Linked DNA regions of Homo sapiens: region 1 is linked to region 2. The links come from fine-mapping of genetic effects on gene expression. A gene starts in region 2. The other region holds a variant in brackets. All regions are shown on one strand. Distances are from middle to middle.

Region 1 (15,853 bases), 190 kb after region 2:
GCCGGCAGGACTCCCTTCCTATCCAGGAAGCCCCATGATGTCCCATCAGAGCTCATGACACCGATGTCATCCACAAGAGCTGGCCCCGGTGAGTGTCAGGTCCTCACAAGTGAGAGACATGGCCAGGACCCCCACAATGCCTCAGCTCCTACCCCATGTGCTCACCAGCCCTGGCATCCCCTTGCCCAGGAGGGGCACAGAGCATCATAAACCATCCTCCATCTCCCCCACTGTGTCCTCCACAAAGGACTCAAACTTCCAGCACAGAACAGGAGCTCTGCCTACAGCGGGGTCTCCAGGAGCCGAGGCTGCAAACCCAGAACTAACTGGCCACCTAGGTCCCAGACTGGCTTCCCCAAGGCCCAGGAAGGAGCCCACCTATTGGTGTTGACTCTGGAATTGGGGCCACAACTGAGGAAAAGGGCCTTGTGTATTTTCTGTGGCCATGGGGCTGTCAGCTTGTGTGCTCACGGGGGTTCCTCCTCCCTGGCCCCAACACCACCATCACAATCTCCAAAAATGCATCTAAGCTGTCACCATGGCGTCCACCCTGATGCCCACTGGACATCTACACTGGGCCAAGCCCTGGGAACAGGGAGGGGAGGCCGGGGCCCTCAGGGACGTCACAGCCCAGTGAGGAAAGTGGACACCTGCATTGCAGCTCCAAGGGGGCAGGGGGATGGGGGGCGTGCAGAGGGGCCCGCGACCCAGCCAGGGTCTCTGGGGTCTCAGCCCTGCTCTGAGGGATGAGGAAGAGAGGACCAGGTGGAAGGGAGTCAGGAAAGGTTTGAATTAGAAACTCTGGGGACAAAACACCCAAAGGGGAGGCGGCCCTGCTGAGGCGGGCATCCAGGGACAGAGGAGTGGCCCGGCTTGCCCAGGGCTGGAAGGCGGGCTTTAGGCCCCAACTCTGTGCTTCACCTGGAGGGTTTCCAGCTGAGGAGTGACTGGGTCAGACTGGCAGCCCGCTGTGGGGGGAAGGGCAGATCTCAGAGGGAACCTGGGAAGAAGTGGGCAGACCAGGGACACTGCAGCAGCTGCAGGCTTCCAGGGCATTGATGGCCTCATAGGAAGGTGGCCGGGGGACAGGTAGGAGGCAGAGGCAGCCCCCCAACCCCACTTCTTCGTAGCCAGCAGAGACCTCCGAGCACCGGCGCCCTCTAAAGCCGAGGTCAGGGGCCAAATGGACCTAAAGTGGGAATCCTCCTTTCTCCTTTTCAAACTTTTTATTCTTTTCTACTTAAAAGGAGCTTTGAGTGACAGGGAATGAAAACCATTACCGTGGAGACGCTGGGGACAGACTCTAGACCTGCAACCTACACAGATGTAGAATCTTCCAGAGGTGGGGCAGGGCCGGGCAACCCACCCACAGACTGATGCCAGGTGGCCCAGCTGACCAGAGGCCCCCATCCCACCACACCAGCAGCCCGTTTCACCCACAGTGCAAACCTCCTGCCTGTCTGGGCTTTTATGGTTGAGTAGTTGTAAAGGATTATGTTTTCCCTTCTTCCAGCACAATTGTCACCTTTGCTCTTCAAGCTGTCCTCTGTCTTGAGGCAGAAAAAAAAGGCACCAAGGGGCTCTATAACTGACATGTCCATAAGAGGAGGAGGCAGAGTTCAGCCGCGACAAAGAGACAGAAAACGCATCAGAAACCAACCAGCCCACAAGGACTCCCGTGTGCCCCCCAACCACGAAGCCTGGGGCACGAGGTGCTGGCAGGAGTCCCAGGTGGGGCTGAAGCCCTCGCCCTACCCTCCTACCTCCGAGCGGACGCCACCCCATGCTCTCCCACCCCCACATCTCTGCACTGGCTTCACTCCACAGCCAAGCAGATTGCGTGGCCTGAGCCTCATGATAATGGGTCCACCTCCCGGATTTTCCTGTCACAGCCACTGACCACGGCCTGCAGTTGGGAGGTGTGTGCCCTCCCCCACCTCTGTCCTCTCTCTCGGTCCTCTCCAGCTCCTCCCACAGCCAGCATGGCCGGCACACCTCTCCCATGGTGGGGGTCAGGGCACTGATAGGCCACACAGCCGGCTGTTGGTGTGGTTATGACAGCCCCCATTGCCACAGCTTCAGCCCCGCCCAGCTGCTGTGCTTCAACCTCCAGGAGAAAGTTCCATCAATACTCTCATTTTACAGATGAGGAAACCAAGGGCGGGGAGCTTTGTGATGAGTGCGAGGCCACACAGTGGGAATTAGAACGCATGTCCTTCTCACTGTACACTCCGCCCAAGCTACAAAATGGCCCACGCAGGCCCTTCAGAGTTCAATGAGCTCCGTAACCCTGAGTTGAAGGCAAGCTGGGAGGCCTGGGGGCTCAGTTCAACTCAAGCACTGACCAAACTCCTCCTGCAAATCAGCCCCAGGGGTCCCGTTGAGAGGAGCCAGGCATGTGAGAAAATGGGCCATAGGGCAGTGCTGCAAGAGCCATCTCGGAGAAGGGCCACATTGGGACCTGGCTGGGCCACAGCTGGCAATCTGAGGGGTCAGGTGACCACAAGAACACTGTGGACATAACAATGCATGACTCTCAAGTCTGGCTCCTTAATGGCGTGGCAGCTTCTGCCTTGGCCTGCTGGATCACTTGCACTGGGGGAAGCCAGCCTCCATGTTGAGAGGATGCTCAAGCAGCACTGTGGAGGCAAGCAGCGTGCCAGCCTCGTGGTGTGCCACCTTGGAAGTGGCTCCTCCAGCCCTGGCCGACATTCAGATGACGCAGCTCTGGCCAACATCTGGCCGCAGCCTCTTGGGAAACCCCAAGGCAGAACCACCCATTGACTAAGCCATTTCCAAAGTCCTGATCCACAGAAACTGTGAGTGATGATGAATGATTACTGCTATTTTAAGCCACTAAGTTGTGGGGTGGTTTGTTACATAGTAACAGAGAACTAAGAGGCAGACCCTGCACAGCCCTTCTTGGCCTAAAGAAAGAAGGTGGAAGATTTTCACCAGGATGCAAACCTCGGGCATGTGTGGCACCTTTCACTCATGTGTCTTTTCCCATTCAGCCCCCCATGGGCACATGGCTGGAGCCCCCTCCCAATGTGGGGCTCTTGGAGTAAGAGTGGGGTCTTGCTGTCCTCTCAGGAACTCCGAGGACCCTGTGACAGGATGATGTACACAAAGGATGAAGTAGCAGGTCCACAGCCCTCTAGAGAGGCTCAGAGCAGCCAGGTCAGGAGACAGCACCAGCAGAGGGAGGGGGAGAAGGCCCCCAACCATGGAGCCACAGGCCTTCCTTTACCGCCCTGCCCAGCCCACAGCACCCCGCCTCCCCACAGGCAGAGGGATAGGCAATGAAGTGTGGGCAGACTGTCTCATAAAAGTCACCTACCTGCTGACAGCCACACCCATCCAGGACTAGGCTGAACAGCCCTCTAACGAGCAGGACAGGGCTTCTCTGAGCTCAGGGAGCTGCTCTGTCCAGCTAAGGAGCTCCAGAGCCTGTGGTCCCGTCTCCTGCAACCACCCGTCATGCCCTGGTCACCTATTGTCTCAGCTTCTCCAGGGAGGGCCTGAGGCAGTTGTTTGTTTGGCAAAAGTGCTTGACACCTTCCAGAAGGGGGCAGAGACCCCAACACAGCTCCCCACATAGGTGACTCCTGCTGGGTGAAGGCTTCCAACAGGCCCCAGGGCGCCCTTCACAATTCCTCTTCAGAGAACCAAAGCCCCACTGAGGTCCCATAGAATTTTAGAATGTAAAAGGGGCATGCCCCTTGGACCCAGCAACGTCGCTTCTGAACTCCATCCAGGAGAGCACCTGCCGAATGCTGGACAGGAGTGTTCATGACAGCACCAGCTGGTGACAGCCCCACAGGGAAAACAAGCAAAATGCCCAGCAAAGTGGCGTCCAGCAGGGCCCAGGAGCACCATTAGAAAGAAAAGCAGCTCCATGCACAGCCTCCAGGAAGGAGGGCCCGATGCTTGCACGTGAAGGAGAGCCATCGGCAGAAGCGCATACTGGAGTGTTGGAAACCGAGTGTATCGTGGGAGGGGTAGGTGCTGGAACATTCCAGAAGAATGAGCCCCAACAGCAGAAAGGCCAGCTGAGCGAGGGCATCATCAACTTTAACCGAGCCCTCCTCCGGAAGTTTCCTTCTCATGCACACGCTTCTCAGTGCAGATACCAAGAACAGAGCTCATCCTGGCTGATAATCAGGGCGCTGGGTTTGAGTCTGGACTCTGCCCCAACCTGCTGCATGACCCTCAGCTGACATCTTCCCTTTTCTGGGCCTCAGTGTCCCATCTGTCACCCAGAAAGTCTCCTGGAGACAGGACCCCAGAGGATTCAGTGAGCATCACGCTCCATCCTAGGGAGTGGGTGGTGGAGTCCCTTCCGAGGAACTCATGCCTGCATGGAGGGCACACGGGAGGGGCAGAGAGGCATGTGGCATCGGGCCTCCCCATCCCCAAGGGCCGCAGTTAGGCCACAGCTTCAGACTCAGGCTCGATTTTGGTCACAGGGGCCTAGAGGTCAAGCATCCTCCAGCATCTGGGAAATGTCCTCCGTGGGTAACGGGAGAGGTGCACAGGGGCTGACCCCGAATGACCACCAGGGCCAGTGAAGTGCTGTGAGAGCCCCGCTAGGCCCACGGTGCACACAGGGCAGAGCCTTGAGGGGCGAGGCCTCCAGCGATGAGGGCCACAGAGCCAGCAGGAGGGAGGCCCAGCCAGGACAGGCCCAAGAGATAAGATTTGTGTTCCCTGAAAGCCTAGAGGACATGGCAGTCAGGTGTGGACGACAGGCAGGATCCACAGAGGTAGGAGCTCAGACTGGCAGGGCTGGCTCAGACGGGCTTCCTGGAGGAGGGGTTGGGGTTGGGATGGTCACGAAGCCGCCCCTGTGAGTCCCCAGGTCCCTTTCGTAAAGCTCTCTTGGAGAAAATTCACCTTGGGCCCTTCCTAGCTGCACCCATACCCAGCCTCATGACTCATGACCCATGAGGTTGTCCTATCTGCCATTCTCCCTGACCTCACCCTGCCCCCGCCACATGCTGCAGGGAGAAGAGGGAAGGGAGGTCCCCAGCTTGGCCGCAGACTTCTGCTTTCCCAGTTGACACTGACCCACGTTTGACCACGGCAGATCCTGCCCCACAGCCCAGGCCCACCTCCAGTGCACAGCCTTGAGCTCCAGAGCCGCCATCCTGGTCTCCCATAGGGAGGGATGAGGCCTTCGAGGGGTTCAGGGCAGGCTTCTGACTGACCTGTTTATGGCCAGTGTCGCCCAGCGAAGAACTAGCTGGGGGTCACACAGGCCAGGTGGGTGCCTCCCCCACCAGCTGTTGGGTCAGAGACCAGGGCAACCCCTGAGCAAGTTTTCAGGGTGGCTTCTCCTAAATTCAGCAGCACCTGCAAATTCCCAAAAGATGTGCCAATTTCGCCTGGATTTCTGCAGGCTCCGGGAGGATGATGCGCGCCACTCCCTCCATATCCCGCCCCACCTTTCCCTTAAAGAGTTAACAGAGACCTGGAGCCCAGCGTCCCATCACAGCCCAGTCCTTGCCATTCAGCGTCTAGCCTCACCCAGAGCCCTCACCCTGGCAGAAGGCAAAACTCAGGCTCAGAGGACAGGCACTTGCAGGCTGGGACTGGGTCCAGAGTCTGGCTGTCCGGTCCCTGCCTGGAGCTCTCGGCCCATCCAGGCCAGTGGAAAGTCCAGCAAAGAAGTGAAGCAGCCCCCACCAAACCCTCAGCAGGCAGTGGGAGGGGACAGAGAGCTCCCCGGTAAGCAGAGAGCCAGCAGCTACTTTCCATGGAAAAAATGTCTTAAGGTCCCCCCAGAGGCCAGGAGGCCCCAGCCATGACTCAAGTCTCTGCTGCTGAAGAATCGCTCCCGACCAGACAGCCCCTCGGCCCAGGCAGGCTCCACCCCACCCCCAGCTCCCATCACACCAAGGCCCCATTCCAGGCAGGGCCCCAGTGTCAAACCCCAGGGCCCCACCGCAGGCTCCGTGGCCCTCTGCATCTCACCCTGGCCATGGCGGGAGCCATGGGGCCTCGACAAGCACAGGCCCTGCTGCTCAGGCCCGTCTGCAGAGGCCTCAGCGGCCCACCTGCAGAGTGGGAAGGGGGTCTGTGGGGGGGTTCCCCGTGGGCCTTAAAAGTCCACCAGAGGCTTGACCAAGGTGAGCCCAGAGGGAGGGTGCAGGCCTTGGCCCCTGGTAGACTGAGTGCCAGAGGGCAGGGCCTGGGTCTCAGGGCACAGCACCAGTCAGCTGTCAATAAACACCGGTGGATGCGACTCCGAGGCCTCCGGCAGACACGCTCGTCCACACCATGGAACTGGGCTTCCCCTTCAGGCTTCATTTCAAGGCGTTTCTGAGACTACACCTGGAGATGACAGGACACTACACCACAGTCCAGAGACCCTGTCTGTGACGGCCTCAAGGCAGAAGTACTTGCCA[C/T]GTGGCAGGCAAACCCTTCCTGCCCTGGGGGTCCCCTTGCACTAAAAAGCCTCAGGGGTCTGGGGCAGGTCTGGGAGAGGCTGTGTCCTTCGCCCAGAGGCCTGGGCTCCATCAGGGTGCAGCACTGTCCCTGGGAAGCCCTTGGACTCTTGGGCAGAGAAGCAGCAGAGAGAACCACCCCAGCTCCTGAGATTTCAGGGCAGGCAGGACCCAGCTCAGGATGACCCCAGGGCAGGAGGGACAGAGATAGTGACCAGAAGCTGGGGACACTGTGAGAGACACAGACCCCGGCCCCACCCCACAGGACACAGAGGGACACAGACCCCGGCCCCACCCCACAGGACACAGGGGGACACAGACACTGGCCCCACCCCACAGGACACAGAGGGACACAGACCCCAGCTCCACCCGACAGGACACAGGGGGACACAGACCCCAGCCCCACCACACAGGACACAGGGGGACACAGACCCCGGCCCCACCCCACAGGACCCAGAGGGACACAGACCCCGGCCCACCCCACAGGACACAGATGGACACAGACCCCGGCCCCACCACACAGGACACAGATGGACACAGACCCCGGCTCCACCCGACAGGACACAGGGGGACACAGACACTGGCCCCACCACACAGGACACAGAGGGACACAGACCCCAGCTCCACCAGACAGGACACAGGGGGACACAGACCCCGGCCCCACCACACAGGACACAGAGGGACACAGACCCCAGCCCCAGCTGACAGGACACAGGGGGACACAGACCACGGCCCCACCCCACAGGACATAGAGGGACACAGACCCCAGCTCCACCCAACAGGACACAGAGGTACTCAGACCCCAGCCATACCCTACAGGACACAGGGGGACACAGACCCGGGGTCCACCCCACGGGACATAGAGGGACACAGACCCTCGGCCCACCCCACAGGATGCTGGGACGATGGAGACACCCAGCCGCATGCTACAGGACACTGTGGAAACCGCTGATCCTGGGGCCATTGGAAAGCAGGGAGCCCTGAGGGCCTGGCCATGGCCCCCCTGCCAGCCCGGACCCCCATAGCTCTGCCTTGGAGTGGAAGCTTAGCTCTAGGCAAGGCCGGGCCATTTCTGTCCAGGAGCCTGTGGGGTCAGATGGGGTAGATGCAGGCTGAGCAGGGGAAGGCACAGCTGGAGCTCGGAGGGCGATTGGGGACAACCCAGCATGTCCAAAGTTAGGGACCCCCTCTCCCAGCTACAGCTTCCCTCCTTCTGGGAGAGACCCCTGTTGGTGGGCTGTCGGGCTGGAGCATGGCCGGCAGCTGGCCCGAGCCATGTTTCGTGGGGTGTGTGTCACCACGCAGTCCGCGAGCTTCATAGTTTCCCACTGACGTCACCGCATGGCTAGAATGTGAAGTGACTGCAAACCCTCAGAGGCATAATTGCAGTTGTCTTTGCAAAGTGAAATCAGATGGCTTTTGCAAACCTCCCCCAGCCCTGCCTTCTCCCCGCGGCTCTCCCTTTTTTTTTTATTATGTTCCTTGGGCCACATCCAGATGTTTCCTGCAACTACAACCCTCCAAAAGTTACACAAAGAGAGCGAGAGCGTGCAGCTTCCTGCCTGCAGGGTGGAAGTGGCGACGTGGCAGGGTGGGGGCGGCCACGTCTACAGGGTGGGCGGGGGCGACCACGTCAGCAGCTGGGGCAGCAGGCTCCAGGCAGGTCCCAGCCCCCTGCCTCCTTGTGCCTGGGGTCTGGGCGCTGAGAGACAAGGCCGGAGGGCCACGGTGCATGAGGGACAGCCCCTTCCGGCCGCTGCGGCCCTGGCCCAGCAGTGGGCCGAGTGGAGACCGCGGCCGGGAAGGAGCAGGGCACCTCGGTCAAGATCAGCCTTTGGGTTCGGGCTGCTCCGGGCGCCACTCCCAGCTGCGCTACTTACACGTGTGGCCTGGGAGCCACGTCTCCACCGGAACCTCTGTTTCCACGGCGATAGGGGTGGTTGCTGGGAGCTTTAATTAAAACCAGTCTCTGTCCACTGCTGGCAGCAGGGAGCGCCTCACCTGGACCCAGGCACCTAGGACAGGTGTGGTCTCGGAAGACACAGCAGAGCCCGACACGGAGGGGCTTACAGGGGAAGGGCCTTGAAGGAGGCCCAGGGTTTCCTGAGGCACAGGCAGGGAAGGGGGGCCGAGGCGAGGAAGCGGCTTTATCAGAGGCCTGGCAGCTGGGCACAAACGCCGTGGGGGCCCAAGGCGTCCCTGAGAGAGACGCACGTGAGGGTCTCTGGAGAAGGAGGTCCGCCATTTCCAGGGAAAGGGGACACCTGTAGGTTTCCCCTGCGGCATCCCTCTGTCCTGTCTGCCTCCCTCGCCCAGAGGATTCCCAACTGTAGGGGGCAGGCAGGGCTGGCTCACGCCTGACCTCAGTCCACAGCCTGTCCCTCTCTGACCTAGGCCATCCCTGGGTGTAGGCACAGTCCCTGGTGGGCAGAGCTGGGAACGTGGACAGGTGGAGACAGGTGTCAAGGCCAGGCAAAGGCTCAGCAAAATGTCTAGAGGGGGTAAAATGGCCCCCGAACCTTCCAAGGGCTGTTTCAGAAATAGGACTTGAAAGTTCGTAGTCAACCCAGGCTGACACCTCCTCATCACCTGCCTTCAGAACCCATCCATGGAAATGCTGACACTGCAGTTCAGGGTCCCCAAACCACCCTCAGGCTCAGGGACGTGCTGGACTGGCTCACAGAACTCAGCCAGGCAGCGATACCCGAGGTCAGGGTTTAGCGCCGTGAAAGGACATAGCCTCGAACCAGCAAACTGGGCATCTCTAGAGGGCAGGGTTTAGGGGAGACCAGACTCCAGCACCCAGGGGTCTTCTCTCAGTAGAGTCGGGCAGACGATGCTCAATTCTCCCAGAATGGTGTGCACCAGCCAGGGGGGCCCAGCCACGCCTCGGGGCTCAGGGTTCCTACTGGGGGTCCATCGCAAAGACATGCCTCACTGCCCGTGTGCTTGGCCTTGGTCTCATCCCCAGGATGATGAGCCGATACAGCACAGCCCAAGGTCCCACTGTAAATGACATCATTAGCGCGGTCACTAGGGTGGCCCAAGACCCCCAAGCAAACACAGACACTTATCACGCAGTATATTTCAAGTGGCTAGAGGTCAGAGGTCACCTCCCAGGAGCTAGGCCAGAGCCAGACCTTTCTTTGGAATGTGCAGGGTGTGGACAACTCAGGCCTGCTGAGTTAACCCTTTCCTGCACAGTGACCAGAACCCACCAGCACCCCACTGGGAGGTGATCAGCTTGAATGAGTCCCGACTGAGGCAGGAGAGGGGAGGAGGCGGAGAAAACCACAGACAAAATTACAGTCCAGTGGGAGCCAGGGCAGCTGGCGTCACCTCCATTTTACAGATGATGTGGGATGGAGGCAGGAAGAGGGGTTATGACGTGCCCAGGTCACAGAGCCAGCCTGGGATGGTGCCAGAACCCCACCCTGATCTCATGCAGCTTGCTCCTGTCACCCCTGGCCCCGCCTCTTCAGCAGTGGAGGAGACAAATGGGGCCTGGCCCATGCCTTGACGGGGGCCCTAGAACTGGGGGCCTGGTGGTGGCTGCCTCCTGGGAAGTATCGGCGTCTCTCTTGAACTAAGGTGGAGCTTGGGTTTTGAGAGCAAGCGCTCTTTGCAGTGGCCACGTGCTGGGCCCTGCTCAAACCTCTTCGGACTCCCAGAAAGAATGAGGTCGGGCCCTTTCCACCCTGAAATGTGCAGCAAGCATCTGAGAAAGGGGAGGGCAGTGCTAAACCCTCAGGACGGAGCCCAGCGGCTGTGATCCCGGGCAGCAGGGAGGCAGTGTTAGGGGAGGGGGAGGCCTCCTTGCTGCCCCCACCAAATCACACGGACCATAGGGTGTGGATTCCAGAACAACTCCCTCTTTCCACAAAAGGGAAAGCCGAGACCTCGAGTGAGCAGAAAGGATGAGCCTGTGGTCACACGGAGCTTGTCCCAGGCCGGCCGCTCCCATGCTGCTGCTCCCATGCCGCCGCTCCCAGGCTGCCCATCCAGCTAAGGATGTCCCTGACACGGGTTCCTTTGGATTCTTCATAGAAACATTTTGGAAGATTCATGTCTAAGGGTTTTAATGAAAATGGCAGCTTTCCAGGCTGGTCTTGGATAGCAATCGTGAGCAGCCCCGCCGGCCAGTGCTCACCTGGGGCCCCAACCACTCGGGAGGGGGAGGGGGCATGTTGAGTCAGCAGCAAGAGAGATTGCAGTTAGACCTAAGAAAGTCCACCCAAGTGAGAGCCAGATGGCCATGCCTGGTTATAGACAAGTTTCAGGAGCCCCTCCACAGCCCCCCACCCCAGCACTTCCTCCTATAACATGCAGGTACAGGGCCTGGAAGTTCACAGGCACACGCACAGTAGCCTAAAAGCCTCAGTGATCTCGGGAAGTCCTCATAAACAGTGGTTGGACCAGGTGATACCGTCCAATGGTCTGGCCAGCATAGCTCAACGTTTATGGACTCTTCGGCACGCAGGCACCATTCTGCCCTCCCAGGCCGATAACCAGAAAGGCATGCCATGATTCTTCCAATTAGCTTAATTGGGAAATTGGTTCCATGTGGTCTCAAGGGCCACCATCTATGGGAGAAGGCAGGTCAGCGGGACAGCGAGTCTCCCAGCACCAACCCACAGAGCCCCCACCCAGAGGGAGCTTACGGGCTCAGAGCAAGGAGCCTTATTCCACACCTCCTTTTCTCCTTGTACTTCCAACCCCACCATCTGGGGTGGAGCTCTAGCTCATGGTAGATGCTCTGAAAACCGTGGCTGTAAGCAGCTGGACCTCCAGGCCCCAGTGTTCGTCACTATAAGATGGGGAAACGTCAACACTGGCCCAGGGGGCAGGAATAAGATGATTTGAACCATGGGTCTATAAGGAGCACCTGGTGGGGAGGTCATTAAAGGCCCTTGGTTTCTTCAAGCTGACCTGGACCTTCATGAGCCCTACTTGGGGCACCAGGGAATTGGGAGATTTTCTTTTCCCTATTTCGCACCTGAAGAACTCCTGTTCATCCGTCAGTGCCCTGCTCCAGTGCTGCCTCCTCTGGGAAGCCATTCAGCCTCCTCTACCCATGGTTGCCTCTCCTCCATATTCCCATCGCACCTTGATTATGGCCTCCTCATGGCACAGATCAGCCCACATTTGCTGCCCACATGCAACACCATGAGAATATTCTAGACCTGCACTGTCCAATGCACAAGCCACTTGCCACATGTGGTTTCGAGAGCCTGAAATGTGACCTGTACAAATTGAGATGTGCTATAAGGCTAAGATAAACACCAAATCTCAAAGACTTGCCACCAAAATATGAATGTAAAATATCTCAATAATTGTTATATTGATTGCATGTGGAAATTATAATATTGTTTATGTATCGGGTTAAATAAAATATTACACTTATTTCACCTGGTTTTAGTGTGGCTACTAGGAAATTTTAAATTAATTACATATATGGCTCACATTGGATTTCTGTTGAACAGACTCTGCAAACTCTGCTCTCTCCTGGAGCCAAGTACAGGACCTAATCCATGCAATTTCCAGTCTGTATTTGCTGAATGAATAGGTGGATGGATGAATTCTGGGTGGGTGGGTGGATGAGTGGATGGATGGGAGGGTGGATGGATGGATGAATAGATGGGTGGGTTGGCTGGGTGGATAGATAGGTGACTGGGTGAATGGATAAGTAGACAGATGGGTGACTGGGTGGGTGGGTGGATGGATGGATGAATGGATGGATGGATGACTGGGTGAGTGAATGGGTGGTTGGGTGGATGGATGGGTGTGTGGATGGATGGATGGATGGATGGATGGATGACTGGGTGAGTGAATGGGTGGATGGGTGGATGAGGGTATGTGGATGGATGGATGGATGGATGGATGGATGGATGGATGGATGGATTGGTGGGTGGGTAGGTGGATGTGGATGGATGGATGGATGGATGGATGGATGGATGGATGGATTGGTAAGCGGATGGATGGATGCATGGATGGATGGATGGATGGATGGATGGATGGATGGATGGATGGATTGGTGGGTGGGTAGATGGATGGATGGGTGAATGGATGGGTGGATGGGTGAATAGATGGGTAGATGGATGGATGGATGAATAGATGGATGGATGGATAAATTGGTAAGCGGGTAGATGGATGGATGGATGGATGAATGGATTGGTGGGTGGGTAGGTAGATGGGTAGGTGGATGGATGGATGGGTGGGTGGGTGAATAGATGGGTAGGGAGATGAGGTGGTGTATGCACAGGGCTAAACACCATGAGCCTTGCCTTGGAGCCTCTGATTCACCATGGTACACCTGTGCACTTGTGAAATGCAGACAACTTGTGAAATTTACAAAACCACAGTTCCCACCTCTTGGAACTACACCCAATTTATTCATGTGATCAGCCCCAGTGGGTGCCTGCCTTGGAGTCTCAGGGGACCTGGTTAAGAAGATGGGAAGCTCTAGCCAGCAAGGAGTGAAGAGGTTTGCAAACACACTCTTGACCAAGCCTAAAGACTAAATCCAGACCGTGCTCAGGCTGGATTGGGCCTGAGGGAGGGGAAGACTGGGAAGACTGGGAGCTGGCCTTCTTCTCAGGGAGGAGTCTATAAGGCAGAGGAAGGGATGGAGGGAGAGAGGGAAGGGAAGGAGGGAGCAAAGACACAGGCCAGGCAAGCCTCCTGAGCAGGAGGAAACGTTTGTGAAAGGTGAAAGAGGCATTCGAAGGGGGATTGAGAAGAAGCACTGGAATTGCTGGATGTCTGGGCGATACATCCAGCAATTCCAGCACATGTCTGCCTGGGCAACATGGAGAACCCTCAGCCCCAATGGTCCCCGCCTCATCACCAGCCTCTCTCCCCATGTGTCTCTGTGTTACTCTTTGCACACCTCAGTTCTCTCCTGCCTCTGAGCCTTCGTATATGCTGTTCCCCCAGCCTGGGATGCCTTTCCCTGTATTGCTGTGTAGTTGTGCTATAGACAGAATATCTGTGTCTCAACAAAAGTCATGCATTGAAATCCTAACCTCCAAGATGATGATGTTGGGAGATGGGACCTCTGGGAGGCTCTGCCCTCATGAGTGGGATGAGCACCCTTATAAAAGAAGTCTCTGAGAACTGCCTTGCTCACTTCTGCCATGTGAGGATGCAGACAGAAGCAGCCAGCTCTGAACCAGCAATGGGCCCTTGCCAGATACCAAATCCGCAGGTGCCTTGATCTTGGACTTCCAGCCTCCAGGACCATGAGCAATAAGCTGCTGTCTGTGAGCCACCCAGCCCAAGTGGACTAGGACAGGTCGGCTTCCCGTGGAGGCCCCACCTGCCATGCTGTCCAAATCAGCAACCCCACCACCACCTCCCACACTCACTGCCTTCCCCATGACTTGATTCCTCACATGCTTATCTGGGACCAAGGGCTCCAGCTCCAGATGCAGGCATCCACCAGCCTCAAGGCCAGGCACCACAAGCAGGCCCCAGGCATGCCACTTTCTCCCCTCTGTCTTCCTTTGACCTCAGAAGGCACCCTCCTGAGGCTTCCTGCAGTCTCTGGGGACAACTTAGTTGTGTCCCAGTGGGGTTCAACTCATTAGAATTCATAGTCGCTTTGTAGTTGACAAGGTCTGCTCCAGAAGGACCACCACAAATCTCCCCTGGGACTAATCAGGGCAGATGTCCCAGGCACCACACTTCCATGCTTCTGAACCACAGTGTTCTGCATCCCCTCCCTCCCCTCAGCAGCAAGCAGGGGAAGGGCACTCTCCCCAGCCCATGAGATGGGCAGCAGGCAAGGAGGGGTGCAGGGGCTCTGCCTGGGGAATCGCAGAAGCATCACACAGTTCTCTGCCTTCACTCCTGGCCCTGAAAGCCCCTTCTCTGTATTTTGCTCTTCATTTCCAGAGCAGGATGTGGGAAACACAAGCACTGGAGGAAAAGGAGGACCCTTCAGCTAAGACGGAATCAGGGATGTTCATATGCGGGTCCGTCCCTGCTTCTACAGCCCGCCACGGTCCATTCTGGGGCAGCATCTTGGCCCCTAAGCATGGGGACAGAGAGCAAAAAGGCAGCATCTGCAAATCAAACTAAGCAGCATGTTCCAGGGCTGGGCAAATGGGAGAGGGAGGAGCCGGGAGGTGGTTGCCAGGGAAACATCAGAGCTTAGCCAGTCAGCAGGGGCCACCAGTTTGGTTGCCGGGTGCACTCTGCAGGATGACACTGCCCTCAGGTGGTGGATAGGGATGCTGACAGCCACGGCACCAGGGACCGCTATGTCCTGAGCCGATGGAGGCACCTTAGGATGTTTTCCCCTCGCTCTGTGTATACTAAAGATACCCAAGTAGGGCTGACCCTGCATACAGCTCCCATGGCCTCTCTGGGGGAGCAAGCTGAGGATATTCCGTTGTGATGAGGTTTCACAAGCATCCTGACCTCTGGGGAAGTTGCTTTTGCCACAGTTCCCATCAAGTGTTGCCCTGCATGCCAAGGAAACAGAGCCCCTTGCAGGGAAGACAAAGGGTCCATGAGATGCCTCCTTCCTTGAACATGACAAAATTCAGTGCTGTCATCCACATAATTCAGCGGCAAAGATAGGTTTTACTGAATTTCTTCAGTAAGGTATTTTCGTTTTCTAAACCCTAAAACTTGGAATAATTAGAGGTTGCCACCCAGTGGGGACTCAGAAAATTGCAACCCAGCTTTATCAGCTGTTGTAACTCTCCAAACAAAACCAAGGTCTCTGCCTATGTGTCGGGGGTGGGGTGGGGCAGGGTGGGTGTTCAGGGACTGGTGGAGTTTCTAGAGCCCCAAGAGGGGTGACATGTCCAACAGAAAGAAACCACCAAATTCCAAATTCAGGAGGACAGTGGAACAAAGTCTGCTGGCCTTGGACCTTTAAGCTGTCTGCCTTCCCACACCCTCGCTTTCCAACTCACCCAATGAAGAACACAGCTGCACAGTGACAGTCCCATCAAGCCTGTGTCTGCTGCACCCAGACAAAGCCTCAGAGTCCTTCTCATCACAGTGCTGTCAGCAGCCCCTGCTACCAACTAGAATGGTCAAATGGCTGTATGGCCCCCTCAATCCATGTTCCATTTGCTCCTAGTTCACTTGGGGTTTTTTGGCAAATTGTTTGCTTTTCTCTAAAGTATATTGTTTGTAACTCAAGTAGCTTGTTTGTTGCACCCAAAGTTCACTAGGTTTGTACTTACTGGAAAATTCCTGGGTCCTGCCCTTTTGACGTGTCCCCACCCAGGGCCCCCTGCCACCACATGCCCTCCAGTGACACTGACACCTTGGCCCTCTATTCCCTGGACAGTCTGCAGTTGGCTGGCCCCAGGCACCTGCAGTCCAGGTGACCCCACCTTCCACTCTCACTACCAGCCCTGTGACATTCTGCCCCACAGCTGGGT
Region 2 (15,853 bases):
GTGTGACCACTGGGACGTGGAGGGTGGTTTTCATCCCCTTGTGCCAGCTGGACTCAAGGAGCTAGACTGGCACATCTGCAGAATGGGCCGATCCCACCTGGCACGAAGGGCGGGTTTGAGGATCACAGGTGCTGACGGGAGCACCCTCAGAGCAGGGTCCAGTGTAAATATGAAAATATGAACAAGAGCCAGAGGAAGAACATGCACGGGAACGTGCCCTCTGCATCCACCAATGGGAGCCTGCCTTCAGGCGCATGCATCCCAAAGGGCTGGCCCTGGAGAAGCAGGCTGGTCTCTGACTGGCCACCGCCCCATGGGGCTGGCAGGTGCCTCCCTAGACTGGCCTTGGCCACACCCTACTCCCACTTCTACTGCACCTCACTGGGTAAAACCACCTGTTCAGATGGCTGACTCCCCCGCCGCAGCGGAAGACCCAGTAGGGCACAGACGGCTCGCCTATCGCTCACCTGTGCCCCCCGCACAGGTCCGTCTCATGTTAGGGGTCCATAAATGCTGCCAAGCAAACCTGCTGACACACCCAATGTCTTTGCATATGGACCCCATCTGTTCCCTCTGTACCCACACACGGGAAAGAGTGCTGGTCCCCCAGGCCACCCGCCAGCAGAATGGAAGACGGTCGCTTCCAATGGAAGACGGTTACGATGCTCATGTGTTCTCACTGGGAGATCACTGTTTCCCAATGCAAGGGTCAGAGTTTTTCAACTTAAGTCACTCCTGCTACATACACACATTTAAAAAAATTTTTTTTATTATACTTTAAGTTCTGGGATACATGTACAGAACGCACAGGTTTGTTACACAGGTATACACATGCCATGGTGGTTTGCTGCACCCATTAACCTGTCATCTACATTAGGTATTTCTCCTAATGCTCTCCCTCCCCTAGCCCCCCACCCCCCAACAGGCCCTGGTGCATGATGTTCCCCTCCCTGTGTCCGTGTGTTCTCATTGTTCAACTCCCACTTATGAGTGAGAACATGTGGTGTTTGTGGTTTTCTGTTCTTGTGTTAGTTTGCTGAGAATGATGATTTCCAGCTTCATCCATGTCCCTGCAAAGGACATGAACTATCCTTTTTTTATGGCTGCATAGTATTCCATGATGTATATGTGCCATATTTTCTTTATCCAATCTATCATTGATGGGCATTTGGGTTGGTTGCAAGTCTTTGCTATTGTGAACAGTGCCGCAATAAACATACGTGTGCATTTCTCTTTATAGTAGGATGATTTATAATCCTTTGGGTATATACCCAGTAATGGGATCACCAGGTCAAATGGTATTTCTGGTTCTAGATCCTTGAGGAATCACCACACTGTTTTTATGTCATTTTGTGGCATTTATTTACAGAAAAAAAAGAGGCCACCAGAAACCCTATTGCCGAGGTCCTGGCAAGGAAGAAAAGGACAGAAGAGCTAATTTCCCTACAAGAACACGGGTCTAGGAAACAGAAAATAAAGGAAGCTTCCATTTCATGGGCAGAGACATCTCGGCAAATAGGCTGAGCCCATGTCCCCAGAGCTCTGAGTAATTAAATTTTGAGAAAAGTGGGTCAGGCTGTGGTTCCATTTCTTAGGTCTGAGTCATCAAAGGATGGTGACATTTACTGCTAATATGAGGTTATTACCTAGTTTGAGATTCCTCCAGAAAAACTCCTCTGCTGATAGGAAGCTGAGGGTGTGACGGCTCGGACTATCTGACATGGATAACTCAAAGTGACCCGCACCCCTCCACTGAGCATCCAGCCACCAATTCATTCATTCCACGGTCTTCTCTCCAGTGGCCTGGGGCTGGGCTGGCACAAAAACAACATCTGAGATGGCAAAGCCCCCCCCACACCCCGCCCGCACCAACTTCACCCACCCCTGCCTGGAACACCTCCTTTCAGTGATCAGCCACCACTCACCGCCATCACATCACAGAGACAGAACAGAGGCCTGCAGCTGGGAGGTGCACAGGTCCATCCACCTCCTGGACCTCCGTTCCTTGTAAAGAGCAAGTGGCCAGAGGAGGCAGGGGAGGGCCACTCTGCGGGCTGAACTTGGCCTGGCCCGCGACTGCCCAAGGATGCACCTTCCTGGCTCAGGCTCAGAGCCTCAGAGGCAGCGAGCAGCGAGCGATCCGCTGAACTGACCACTGGTGCTTACTGCCTTACCTTTTCTCCTGCGTACCCAGTGAGGGAAGCAGCAGTGTGACACCACACAGGATGGCAAGGGAGCACGCACAGGCCAGCGAGTAGAGGGCCCCAAACCACCTCACAGCCTCCTGCTGCACTGGGGCCCCTGGTGGCAAGGGCAGTAATGGGGTCTTACTCTGTGCTTTATATGAGTAATACATTAGACATCACTAAAACCCTACTGTAGTTACAGTCACCACCCCCTTCTTACAGATGGGGAAAGTGAGGCACAGGGTGGGAAAATGCACTGCTGGTAGACACTGGAGCCAGGATAGGAATCCAGGAGTCTTGCCGGCTGCCTGTCCTTTGCCAGCAGGCCACCCTGGTCCCTATGCCATGTCCTGGTGGCTGCAGTCCTGCAGTCCTGCCTATGAGCAGAGCTGTATTAGTCAGGGTTCCCTTAGAGGGACAGAACTAATAGGAATAGAAATAATAGAAATATATATATATATATTATATATATATATATAGGAGTTTATTAAGTACTGACTTACACAATCACAAGGTCCCACCACAATAGGCTGTCTGCAAGCTGAGCAGCAAGGAGAGCAAGTCCGAGTCCCAAACCTGAAGAACTTGGAGTCCGATGTTCGAGGGCAGGAAGCGTCCAGCACAGGAGAAAGATGTAGGCTGGGAGGCTGGGCCAGTCTCGTCTCTTCATGTTTTTCTGCCTGCTCTACACCTGCTAGCGGCTGATTAGATTGTGCCCTCCCGATTAACGGTGGGTCTGCCTTCCCCAGCCCACTGATTCAAATGTTAATCTCCTTTGGCAACACTCTCATAGACACACGCAGGATTAATACTTGTATCCTTCAATCCAATCAAATTGACACTCAGTAGTAACCACCACAAGGGCCGCTGTGGGCTCCGCCTGCAGGATCGAGGCACATCCACCAGCCAGGCCAGAAACTTTAAAACCGACACTTGGCAAAGCACTGAGAGAGAGCAGACGAGTCAATTATATGGGAGAATGTAAATAGAGGAGAAGCGGGAGCCATAATGTAACATCGCCCTCCCGGGAGTTTAAAAAGACATGAAATTGTCGGATCCAGCTGGACCCGGCTTGCCCTGCGGCAGAACCCACAGCCTCACGCTCAACCGGCAGGTTCCACGTGCCATCTCCTCCTCTCCCGTCCAGCTGGGGCCGGGTCACGGTAAGGAGAGAAACGTCGCCCTGCCACGAGCTCCTCAAACACACCAGGCCCTGCACGTGGAGTCAGCCAGGGACACCCATGTGAACGCAGGTACATGTGCAAGGATGCGCATGCGTGCACACTCAAACACACATGTATACCCACAAACACATGTGTGCAGGCAGATCGCGGGGAGATATACACATTGTCCACACGTGCACACGGCCTGACACACACACACACACACGCACACATGACACACATACACACAAACGCACACATGAGTGCAAACCCTGGAATTGGCTTCTAAAGCTTTTCACATGCATCACACCCCACGGCCTGGACAATGACCCCATGAGGTTCCGTGGGAAAGCAAAGAACCGAGGCCAAGGAAGGCAAAGGGGCAGCAGAGACCGGCTAAGCGGGCAACAGCAGAGCCCCAGGGGTCTCAGCAGGGCCAGGCCCCACACAGGCACACCTCCCTCGCCTGTGCTTCTGGGAGCTAAAGAGGGCTGTGGGAACACTGCTCTTTCCTCCTGCAAAACCACCACTGAAGATGGGGGCGATGGTAACGTCCCCACACAGCCAGTGCCGAGTACAGGTCAGGCAGCCTGCAAAGCTTCTCACAGGTGTGGCCTCAATCGATCTTCACAACCATGCCTCAAAGCAAGAAATGTGGTTCTCCCCATGTTCACGAGGGGAAGCTGAGGTGCAGTGACTTGTCCTCGCCCAGCCCATCCGACAGCCCCTCAGAGGCAGGGAAACTCAGCTCCAGCCTCACACCGACCTTGCTGGCCTGGAGTTCAGTAATCTGATTGCCAAGGAATGTCCCCTCCCACATCCGACCACCTGTCACCCAGCACAGGTACCCAAAATCACCCCCAGAGGCCCCCACATCCTAATCCACAGCTGTGGAGCTGTCTGCAGAGCTGTGCAGACTGGGCTCACTGTGCCAGGCCAGCAGGGCTCGTCAAAGGGAAACAGGAGGAACGGGGGCAGAGAAAGGGTTAAGGAAGCTGCCAGGATCTGCCACTTCCCTTAGGGGCACTTGTATTCTCCTGGCAAACAGATACTGGGAGCACCTGCCAAGCCCGTGAATGAGGGGCTTTCCAGCCAAGGGAGCCGCCCAGGAGAGCTCTGGGACACGGTGTGGAATGTCCTGTCAGAAGGAGGGAAGAGAGCAAGATTAAAGCCAGAGGTGGAGGAGGACCCCACGAAGGAGGGTCATTTCTGCAATAAAAGGAAGGAGAAGAGAAGGAGGGAAGGCCAGTTTCACATCACCTCCTCCAGGAAGCTCCCCAGCTCTCCCCAGTGCAATTAACCCTCCCAGACTGTCGGATGCAAGACCCAGCACATCCCATGGAGGGCCCTGAGTAAAATTCACAATGGTCTGCCTGTCAGACTGTGAGCTCCTGGAAGGAAACGAGGGGTCCCATCCCATTTGCCTCGGTCTCCCCAAGATAGGCCCGACCCAGGTGAAAAGGCAAAAGCCTTCAGGGTCCAGGCAGGTTATGCTGATGTGCAGAGAGGCCTGGGAAGTGGTGGAGACTGTGGCTGCTGCATCCCTCTTGAAGGCACTGGAGTAAAAAGAGAAGGGATGGAGGGACAAAGGGAAGGAAGGAAGGGGATGGGAGAGAGGGAGGGAGGAAGAGAGGGAGGAAAGAAGGAAGGAGGGAAGGATGGAGGGGGAAGGAGAAAGAAAGGAACTTAAAAGCTGTGTTGGCCAAATGGAATGGCTCTGCTCCCAGGACCCTGTTTGGACTGGGCCCCCAGGCCAGGACTATAGCTCAGGGCCCTGGCCTTCTCCCCGGGGAGAGCTGATAAACCGATGGGAAGTGAGAAGAGGGAACTGTGACAAGTCAAAGAGTGACCATGCCAGGCGAAGGGCCGTTGCTGGCTTAGGGCCCCACAGCAGGAATGGAAGACATCTGCCTGGCATCCCTGCCCCCTGACTCCTAGGCTCTGTCCCTTCTCAGGCCCGGGTGAGGGTGCAGTGAGATGGTGCAGCTGATGCTCACCACAGGCCAGGCAAGTGCCAGCCCCTCCATTCCCATGTGTGATTGTCTCCCAAGGCCATTCCCAGAGCCACGTCACGTGACCGAGCAGGGACAGGTCCTGCACTGTTCCAGATGCAGCTTGGCTCAGGCTCCTATGTGGGTGCCCTCGGGAAGTGTTGGGGACTCATCCTCGCCCTCCAGCGGGGCAGCTCACTGCTCTGCACAGCCCCTACTCCACCTATCAAGGTCTATCTCCCAGGAGGTGGGATGGGGCGGTCCAGGGAGGAGGCAGGGCAGGCAGACAGGCCAGGCAGCGAGAAGGCAGGGCGGGACGGGCAGCACCAGCTGTGTTCGGCTGAGGCGTGGCGGTGGGGAGTCCAGAAATATCTGCAGGGCGGGGTGAAGAGCAGGCTCTGGCCAGCCCCGCAGGAGCAGCCCAGGAGTAACATCACTGGAGAAACCACTGTGAGCCTGGCACTGGGAGCACGCCCCTGCCTGGGGCTGCCGCACTGCTGGGTGGGCACAGCCCTGGGTAGCAACCAAAACTCCAACCCCTCCGGCAAATCTGGACCACAGCAGGGAGAGGGCTTGGGGAATTCTTGGGGCTTCTGAGCTCCTCCCACTCACTGCTCTTTTATGGGGAGAGGGAGGGAGGGGGCAGAGGATGGAAAAGGATGTCTTTCCAGCCAACTTGATTGAGTCAGAGGAAATTTAACCATTTGATACCTGTCAAGTCTCACAAAACTTGGCCGACTCTCCCCACAAATTATTGCAAAAAGCAATCACGTGACTGGAGTCAACCAATGGCGTGTAGAGGAGATGACCTCAATTTCCAAATATTGGGGTCATGTTTCATTTCCCATACTCTCCTTCCCCGTTACACTGTTCAGCAGCCCCAAATGCAATCTTACTTTTCATTCCTTCACACACTTGGCCAAAAGAAAGCAGGCAAAAGAACTGTGTTCAGAAAACCCTCAGAAAACATCTGGCAGATCCGAAGATGGAGAAGACAGCAGGCACTTGCTGGTGGCTCCCCCCCGCGCCTGCCTCTCCAGTGGACAGCCGCCCCCTCCCCGCCACGCCTGCATTTCCAGTGGACAGCCGCCCCCTCCCCCCAGCGCCTGCATCTCCAGTGGACAGCCGCCCCCTCCCCGCCACGCCTGCATCTCCAGTGGACAGCCGCCCCCTCCCCCCAGCGCCTGCATCTCCAGTGGACAGCCGCCCCCTCCCCCCAGCGCCTGCATCTCCAGTGGACAGCCGCCCCCTCCCCCCAGCGCCTGCATCTCCAGTGGACAGCCGCCCCCTTCCCCCAGTGCCTGCATCTCCAGTGGACAGCCGCCCCCTCCCCCCAGCGCCTGCATCTCCAGTGGACAGCCGCCCCCTCCCCGCCACGCCTGCATCTCCAGTGGACAGCCGCCCCCTCCCCCCAGCGCCTGCATCTCCAGTGGACAGCCGCCCCCTCTGGCCATGCTCGAAGGATGACTTCCAAATAGGTCCCACCCTGGGAGGTGGAGAGACGTTGGCAAAACTCACTAAGAAAAGTGGTCTCTCCACATGCTTCTAAAAGTCTGTTCTGACAAAAGCAAAATGTCCAACTCCATAGCCTGCTGCTCTGGGCCATCCTCACTCCCACTTCCAACGAGCCGCACTTCGATTAGCGAGGGCAACCAGAGAGGGAAAAAGACAGTGTGGAGGTGGGGAGATGGGCAGGGAGGGAAATGGAACCCCAAGCCCAGTCCGGTGCATGGTCCCCAGGCAGTGCCCTGCCCCAGCTGTCTAGGGTGACGATTCCCCTGAAGGACTCCCTCCTGAGTTTCTGGGGAAAAGTCCCCAGAGGCGCTGAGACAGGGCCTAGTCCCCCGGCAATGGCACAGTCCCTGACCACACCTTCCTTCTCCTCTCCACTTTTCTGGGGACCTCTGTTGTCCCCCACCTTCAGCTAACCCCTGGAGAAACACAAGCCCAGTTAGCCCAGGGTCAGGAGAGAGTTGGTGGCGGCCCAGGGATGAGATCCCAGGTCCTGGGAGCCAGGCCAGGCTCCTGGCTCCTCCCCCAGAGCCCCAGGGCAGCCCCCACACCCAGACTCCAGCTCATCCAGTTAGCCCAACAAGCACTGATCGTGCCAGGGAAAAAGGAAAAGAGTGTTTTAATTGACAAGCGGAACACGGACAATGATTCTTCCCACTTGTCTTCCAATCGTGAAGCAGAGAGAAGCATTCTTGCTGGCAGGCGGCGGGCTGGTCCAGACGTTCGCTGAGCCCACCGTCCCATCGCTCTGCCCGCCACTTCTCCTGACCTGGCAGCACACAGCTCTGAGCCTCCATCTCCCCGCCTGTCAATAAGGATTCGGGGGACCTTCCAGGGCTGGGGGCTCTGATGTTCGAGAGTCTGTGAAAACCCACCCCGCCACTAACTACCAAGAGCGATGCCTAGAAAAACTCCCCCGTCAGGAAGCTGCGCCAGGGAGAGTTGAACCCTCGAGAACCCAGGCAGGGACGCAGACAGTCCCCGCCTTGAAGCGCCCTCCCCGGGAAGCAAGCCTCCTTCTAAGGGCTGACCCTTGGCAGAAGGAATCCCACATCTGCATATCATCCCAACCACTCACAGCCCCGCCTGCAAGCCCATCTCTGGCTTTGCTCCACGCATCCCATCTCTCAGCAGCGAATCCAGGAAAAGCTGCCTTCCAGGGATCAAGAAGTTTGGGGGTGGGATTAGGAGCAGGGCTGTCTACCACCCTGCAGGGGTCCCCAGTGCCCCCGAACACTTAGGTGACCAAGGCTGCAGGAAACGCTGTCCCTGGGGAAAGCAGGGCGCCAGCTCAGCCTAGAGTGACAGTGCCTGGGGGAAGTTCAGTGCTGGGGGCCCAGGCTTCTGGGATTCCCCCCATCCCCAGGAGTCCCGGGATTTGAAGGGCTGTAACTCTAGGGGGCGGCCCTGCCCGGTTTGGAGCAGAGGAAGTTCTGCTGTAGGGCTGTGAGGGCCCAAGCTGGGCGCCTGTGATGTGGGACAGAGAAGGAAGGTTTTTGGGACAAAAGTTTGCCCGCCTCGTGGACAACCCCTCCTGCTGATCCAGCCCTCGGTCCTTCCTCGGCTCGCGCGACAGCCCCACCCGACCCGCCCGTCTGGGGAGGGGGCGGCGGCGCGCCCGCGGGCATTGTGTCTGCGTGTCGTCATCTCGGGGGGGCCCCCAGCAAATGGCATTCGTGGTCTTGGCCCGTGCATTCCACAGGCCAAGGAAGAAAAGTTCTGCGGGCGAAGGCGCCCGGGGATGACAGCGGCGCCCGGGCTGCGCGCGCCCCATCCCGCAGCCCCGCGCCCCGGGGCGCCCTTACCTGCGCGGCTCGGAGGCGGCGCCCACAGCAGCAGCAGCAGCAGCGGGGGCAGCAGCGGGGCGCCCGGGCGGAGCGCGCTGCGCGCTTTCCAGCGGGTATGGACGTCCATGCCGGCGGGGCGCGGGCCGGGGCGCACAGGGGCGCTCGGAGGCGCGCGGGGACGCACAGGGGCGCGGGTCACGGCCCGGGCAGCGCACTCAGCAGGGACCGCACCACTTTAGGAGGTCATGGGGACCTCGGCACCCCCCGTTCTTCTTTGTGGCGGCGGCTGTTCTGGAAGGGGCGGCTGGCGCGCTCGCCCACGGGCGGGAGGGCTCGACTTTGGCCCGCGGGGCGGCCGGGACCCCGCTGGGCTAGCTCGCCCTCGCCTCCTCCTCCTCCTCCTCCAACTCCTTCTCGCCTCCTCCTCGCCGCCGCCGCCCCGCGACCCGCTCCCCGTGGGCGCTCCGCTCGAGTGAGGTCCTGCGCCAGCCGCGGGGACGGAGAGTGCGGACCTCGCCTTCGGCGCGGAGCACTTTTTTCCCCCTTTTCCTCCCTCCCTCTCTCCTGGAAGGCAGCCGCGGAGGCTGTCGATCCCCAACGCCCGCAGCAAATCAGAGCCCGGCGCTGGGCTCGGCGAGGCCAGCCCCCGCCTCCCACTGGGCGCCGCGGGCGAGGGGGTGGGGACAGCGGGCGAGTCGCAGCGAGGAAGGGGCTGGCCCGGGGCGGAGCGGACGTGGGGCGGGCGCGGCCCCCTGTTCTTTCTCTGAGAGCCGGTAGGCGGGCGGGCCTGGGGCGGCCTCGGAGCCCAGGGGCCCACCCTGGTCCCCCCACTGTTCCCACCCCAGGTGCCCGCACCTGGCCATGCTCCAAGAACCAGTGCAGAGGGGCCCCGAGGTTTGATCACTTCGGGTTAAAAAGAAAGTTGCAGTTTACCCCGCCTAACTTTTTCTTTAACGTGGAGGAGTTCAGAGCTCCTCTTCTGGGTGGAGACTAAACTTCCCATCCAGCCAGATCAGGGCGCCCAAGACTGTGGCCTACGTGTCAACCCGGACCGAGGACCTGCCTCCTAACTGCAGATTGGCACGGGACCGAGCTGGGGTCTGACTTCCCAAGAGCTCCCGGGACCTCCATGTGCTTGGACGGGAACATCTGGGTTATTAATCAGGCGAAGTTTGGCTCTGCGGCCCCCAGGCTCTCACCCCTCACTCCTGCCCACTCCCTGGTGGCCCCTCTGCAATAAAAAGGAAACCAAAGAAGGCATCCCCTTGGGAGTGACAGCTGGCGCAGGGAGAAGGCATTCCTGATCGGCTGCTCTCGGAGAAGAGCTGGGGCCCTGATTCTCCTGCCTGGCTTCTTTAAGCCCCTCGGGGTCTCCTCCAGCAGGAGGCCCGCCAGTCTCTGGGTGGTAGGTGGGCGTCTCTCCCTCCAGCTTCCCCAGGCCTGGCCTCCCTGCACAGCCTCCTGAAGCCTGACCCACACCCCTTCCCCAAGGGCTGCAGGGCTAGTTTTTTAAAAGGAGGGAATCAGAATGAATTAAGAACGATTTGCAAACCCTGGGCCATCCCCATTCCCTTTGAACAAACAATTTAGCCAGAGATGCCAGACAGGGCTGGGACTCCCCTCTCCAGTTACATCTCCAGACTGGGCGTGAAATTCCCCAAATGCTCTTTAATTCTCACCATTCTGGAAACAGGAGGTGAGAGAGGCGTCCGAGGTTAGGTTTGCCAGGATAGCCATGGCAGGCTCCGGAGCTGGGTGATAGGTCGCTGTTGCTAACTTGGTGATGAGGCTTTTAGTCTCCATATCTGCCACATGCGCTTGCATAGATATCAAATATTTCGCAGGAAAAGAATGAGAAGCTCTTCACACACAGACGTGGGGAGGTGCTTGAGATACATTCAGTAAAGCAAATGTTAGTTCTGACCTGTTTCCTTGTTGATTTTATTTTGTTTTACAACTTGTATAAGGCATATGTGATCAGGCAAAAATGTGTGTGAGTTGTGTGCATGTGTGTGTTTGTGTGTGTGCCTGTGTGCGTGTCTGTGCGTTGGTTAACCTGCAGCCACTGGCCCTTTACTTTCCCTGTGGACTTCAATGAGTGAGAAATTCCATCAAACCCCAGACTCCGCGCCAGCCCCAGCTGTGCTTGGTCCTTGGAGTGCCCCCGCCCCTACCAGCAAGGCCAGCTTCACCCCTGAAGACTAGGGGTGCTGACACAGGCCATGGCCTGGTTATCAGAAGAGAGTGGAGGCTTTCTGGTTCCAGCTTCTTTTTCCCCAAGCACAAGTGGAGTTCCTTTCTGACAGTCCCATGTGCACATCCGTGCCAGTCAGCAAGCCCTCCTGTAACTCACAGCCAGCATCTAAACTTTGCCCTGAATTAACACAACTGGCGCCTTAAGAGCTGACACTCAAGTGACCACCCCAAGGTCCCCCAAAAGTTGACTTCTCAGCAATGGTAAGATGGCTCAGTCTTGCAGCTCAAGCAGCCATGACAGATGCACTTTATCCTCTCTTGGAGAGCAAGTGGTGCGGTGGCTTGGAAAGCTGTCAAATGTGAGTTTCCACCCTCATCTGAGCCTTGAGTTGGGTGGAGAGATGAGTTTCTATCCCACCAGGAAACTCAGAGAGAAGTCCCCAAACTTGGCGGCCTGATGTGTCAGCCAGGGACTATGGCAGAATGGCCCGGCAGTACCAATCAGGATTCGAACTGTGTTGCCAAGCTAAGAATATCAGCCACATCTTAAGGCTTTTGCCTCACACTCTTCACCCACACGTGCATCAGTTCTCATGCACCGGTAGGGAATACTGGCATCTCTCCCATCCACAGATGAGGAAATCAGGGGCCACAGAGGGTAGGGGACTTACCCAGTTCATCCGTGACAGGGTCCGGATTTGGACCCAGGTCTCCATGCTTGGAGCCCAGTGTGCACTGCCTGCCTCCCCATGGCATCCGGACCACACGCCTGCCGCCAGGACCACCCTGCCCAGATTCAGACAACAGCAACTGGTGCAGATTGTCCCAAACTCACCATGTTCCATGCCCTCCCACAACTGAGCAAAACCAGAGTCCTTGGAAAACTGCTTATTGCGCGCATACTCCTTGCCAACACCGCTCTAGGCTTTAGGGAGTATGTGGTGAGCAAGGTGCCTGGGTCCCTTCCACATTGACCTGCAATGCAGCAGTGACTCCCACGCCCATGCAGAGGTGGCCCCTTTTTTGCATGTGTGTCTTCCTTGTCTTCTGCTATCCATCGTTTCCCATCTAGCCCTCCCCGGCTGCCTGCTCCTGTTCATGGCACTCACCGCAGAAGGCTAACCAGGTCCTGTACCCTGTGTACTCCTGGGCCACCGGGAGCGCCACCACCCATCACTGCGTGTTTCCCACAGTGCCTAGCAGAGAGTGGAGCAGGCCAGGTGCCCTGCACCTTACACGTGGAGTCCGATGGCCCAACTTCTCCTTCCAAGGCTGTGTTTCCTCTCATTTATTTTTCGAGCGGCAGAGCTGTGGTCCGGACAGAGCGGCCATGGCAACCATCAGGTGTTGCTCTCATGTGGACCTGATGGTTCACCACCAGTCCTGAGGGGTCACACCAGCCTCCCAGAGTCACGTCTGGCTGGAAAATGGCCAGCTGCTTCCCAAGACAAAGGCCTTGAGGGGCAGCCAGATTGTCCCTTCTTCTTCTCCTAGACCCATGGAGGAGGTGGAGGAACAAGGTCTTCTTGGAGTGCCTGGAGGCAGATATCTGCTTGCCCTCTAAGCATTTATGGTCCAGAGACTGCTGAAGTGGGCCCAGGAGGGCCTGGGTGAGCCACGGCCTGGCAGAGGGGCTGGAAGCTGCCCCACTCTGTCCCATGCAGGGGAGGAGTTCCCTCTAGCTGCGCAAGGAGAATGCTCTGAACCTGCATCCGGCACCTGGGGCTGCAGCTGTGTCCTTCAGCTGATGTCCTGGGACCAGGCCAACTCCAGAGTCACACAGACTTCCGTTAGAATCCCAGCAGCACCAGCCACTAGCCACATGACCTTGGGCAAGAGGATTCTGTCTCTGAGCCTCAGTTTGTTATCTGTGAATGGGCGGTGAAGAAACTGACCGCTGGGGGGTCCCTGTGAAGCTCAGATGAGAAGGTAGGTGAGGGAGGCCTGGCCACAGTCCCCTCCCTCCCTGCTCCCTGCCGCTGGGCACTCATCCTCTTCTGCCTCCTCCAAGCCCCCTGCCGCCTTCCAGGGCTTCACCTGCTTACCTGCATCATCTCATTCAATGGAGCAACAACCCTTTGAGGCAGGAGGAAGCTGAGGCTCGGAGAGGTGAAACTATTTGCTGGAGGCTGAACAGCAAGGGTGTGGCTAAACCCAGTAGCCCGGAACGCAGCCCTTAACCACCGTGCAGCCTGCACACCAGCAGCAGAGCAAACCAAGGAGGCGCCGGGTCCGAGGGCCGGCCCGCGGCTGACCGCATGTCCTGCCGGTTCCAGGGGCCCAGACCCCCACTGGCCCTAGTTTACCTTCTGACCCATTGGCCTTGACCACTGCTCCATGTGAGCTGTGGCTTCTCAGCAGACCAGAGGCCACCGCTGTGCCCACAGAGCCAGCAGGACTCTCCCTACGTACTGGAGCGGGGCAGATGGGAGGGAGCCCCTTTCAAGCCAGCACTCTCTTTGAAAAATTACTTGGGGAAGGCCGCCACTTTAAAGCCCTTGGACAAAGCATGTCCTTCATTGCCTTGTTTTTGCAGCCTTCTTCAGCCTGTGTCTGCCAAGTGGAGAGTAGAGGAGAGGGTGAGAGAGGGGCCGGGGCCATGCCCCAGGTCACCAGGCTTCCCGGGTGTGTGAGTCAGCTCGGCGGCCACAGCAGAGTGCCACAGATGGGGCAGCTTAGACAGCAGGGATTTATTCCCTCACAGTCCTGGATGCTGGAAGTCCGAGGTTGAGGTGACGGCAGCACTGGTTTCAGCCAAGGCCTCCCTCCTCGGCCTGCAGTCGGCACCATCCCCCCATGCCCTCACACGGTCATTTCTCTGTGTGTGTCTGCGTCCTCATCTCCTCTTCTTTCGGGAACCCCAGTCAGTTGGATGAGAGCCCACCCTAATGATCCCACTTAAACTTAATTATCTTGTTAAAAGCCCCATCTCCAATCACAGCCACATTCTGAGAGGCAAAGCTTCAATGTACGAATTTTAGGGGGACACAATTCATCCCCCTAAAACTGGATTCCTGCAAAACAGTCCCAGTCCGTGGGCCTTTAGCAGAAATCTGAGGATTGAGGGGCTCTGTTTTCTGGCACAGTAGAGACTTTTACCCACCTAGGTGCTCTCTTATTGTGGATTCTCACACCCCAAGGCGGGGGCAGGGGTGAGGGGTGCAGACTCTGGCCAGTGGCAGGGGACCCTGGCCAGTGGGAGGGGACTCTGGCCAGTGAGAGGGGACCCTGGCCAGTGAGAGGGGACTCTGGCCAGTGGGAGGGAATTCTGGCCAGTGGGAGGGGACTCTGGCCAGTGAGAGGGGACCCTGGCCAGTGGGAGGGGACTCTGGCCAGTGAGAGGGGACCCTGGCCAGTGAGAGGGGACCCTGGCTTCTGATGAATGTGTACCACCCTGTCTCCTTGTCCCTCTAGCACATAGGCTGAACCTCTCCTCGGTGGCACTGTCCACCATGGGTGTGAGAGTGGGGCCAGCTGGAGGGCCCAGAACACCAGTGCAGATGCAGCATCTCCTCCAAAAGGCTCCAAGCCCACTCCAGAGTCTCCTCTCTTTGCTTCCCTCCCCACAGCAAATTGCCCTCCCCTTTCTGTGAGTGAGGTGCCCCTGCCCATGCTGCCTGTTAGGAGCACATTCTGTTCTGGATATGAAGGTGTGCATGTGAATAAGTCAGTCTTTGGGACAGATGTGTCTGGGAGCAGGTGTGCATGGGAGCAGTGGTGCACAGGGGCAGGTGTGTATTGGAGCAGGTGTGCATGGGGCAGGTGTGCACTGGAGCAGGTGGGCACAGAAGCAGGTGTGGCTTGGGGCACACAGTCAAGCATGGTAGGTGGGGGCACAGGCCTTGGGACACTGTGTAGTCACATCTGTGTATACCTCTGCTTCCGGAGAAGCAGCCGTGGGTCTGACCCCAGTCTCCCCAGTCCAAGCCTGCAGCCTGTGCTCCATCTAGATGTGGGTGAGAGGGGGTGGGAGGGGGTGAGAGAGGGTGAGAGGGGGTAGGAGTGGGTGGGAGGGGGTGAGAGGGGGTGAGAGGAGTGAGCTGGGAAGAACCCAGGCAGGCTGTGGTCCAGTGAACTCCAGGCCCCATGATTCCATTGAAAATGCAATCCGCTGACTCAGTGGTTTACTTGAAGCCCTTCCCCCGCACCTGAACTTCTACCACTTTGTGAAGCTGAAGCCTCTTCCTCTTCCCCAACCCTCAGCCTTCCCCAACCCAGAGTCCAGCAGAGGAGCTGTTCTCCTCCCAGAGCTCCCATCCCGGGACACCACGGTGCCAGGACCCCCAGCCCAATTTATCAAGCCACACAAGCAGGACCAGACACAGCTGGCCCTGGCATCTGATCAAACATATACACGCAGCTGGAGGTTGGAGGCGCTTTTCATCATGGCGGCTTCTCAAGCATGGCGGCTCATGCTCTTTATCATGGTCTGATGGAGGGCCAGGAAGCAGGGCTCTCAGCAGCTGAGGGGCTGCCCCTCCTTCAAGCCCAGGGACAGAGCAGCATAAATCACCAAGGGATGGAGCCGTGACATCGATGGCTGAAACAGCCTGGCTGTCCCTTGGCTGCGCCTGGCCCTCCCATCTCACTGGCCCTCCCATCTCACTGGCCCCGCTCCGCTGTGCGGCACAGCTCTGTTTCCATGTCATGTCCACGAAGGCCTGGTTTTACTGGACCTGGATATCCCATCAGGTGCCAAGTAAACCCTGCAAAATAATGGAATTTCCAGGCGAGAGAGCCCATGACGAACACCAAACAGACTTTAGATATATAGAGTGAGTTCGCAATTAATTCGGGCCACAGTGTGCCAAGGCACATTTCCAAACTGGGCCTGGATTGGCGTGTCATCCTCCAGGAGAATATATTAGAGATAAAGGTTGAGTTTACAGCCCAAAAGAAATGTCAGTTGGAAAGGTCCCCGCTATTAAATCTTTTAAAGAACCATCTGCATAGGTGGAAAGAGATGCCTCCCACTCAATGGGCTGTTCCCCGGGAGTCAACAAGATCACCCTGGTGAA

The links.
Region 1: its variant is fine-mapped to the expression of COL5A1 in whole blood (TOPMed, PIP 0.92).

What each region holds. Positions count from the first base shown.
Region 1 is chr9:134,448,556-134,464,408 of GRCh38, reverse strand. The region is part of intron 1 of LOC105376311 (a long non-coding RNA gene); the gene reads right to left. Among named protein-coding and RNA genes, the nearest start is that of MIR4669, 77 kb to the right of the region's middle. RefSeq lists enhancers at 1,991-2,491, 7,007-7,943, 7,944-8,881, 9,225-10,060 and a silencer at 14,472-14,766. The variant C/T (reference allele first, on the strand shown) is at 6,411.
Region 2 is chr9:134,635,101-134,650,953 of GRCh38, reverse strand. It overlaps COL5A1 (collagen type V alpha 1 chain), which reads right to left and starts at 9,151. Exons shown (of 66, transcript NM_000093.5): 1 at 8,658-9,151. The coding sequence starts at 8,766. It overlaps COL5A1-AS1 (COL5A1 antisense RNA 1), which reads left to right. Exons shown (of 2, transcript NR_138049.1): 2 at 1,370-1,569. LOC124902300 (a long non-coding RNA gene) reads right to left here and starts at 2,900. Exons shown (of 2, transcript XR_007061842.1): 1 at 2,690-2,900; 2 at 748-2,563. RefSeq lists enhancers at 1,620-2,119, 2,844-3,643, 5,626-6,210, 7,466-8,172.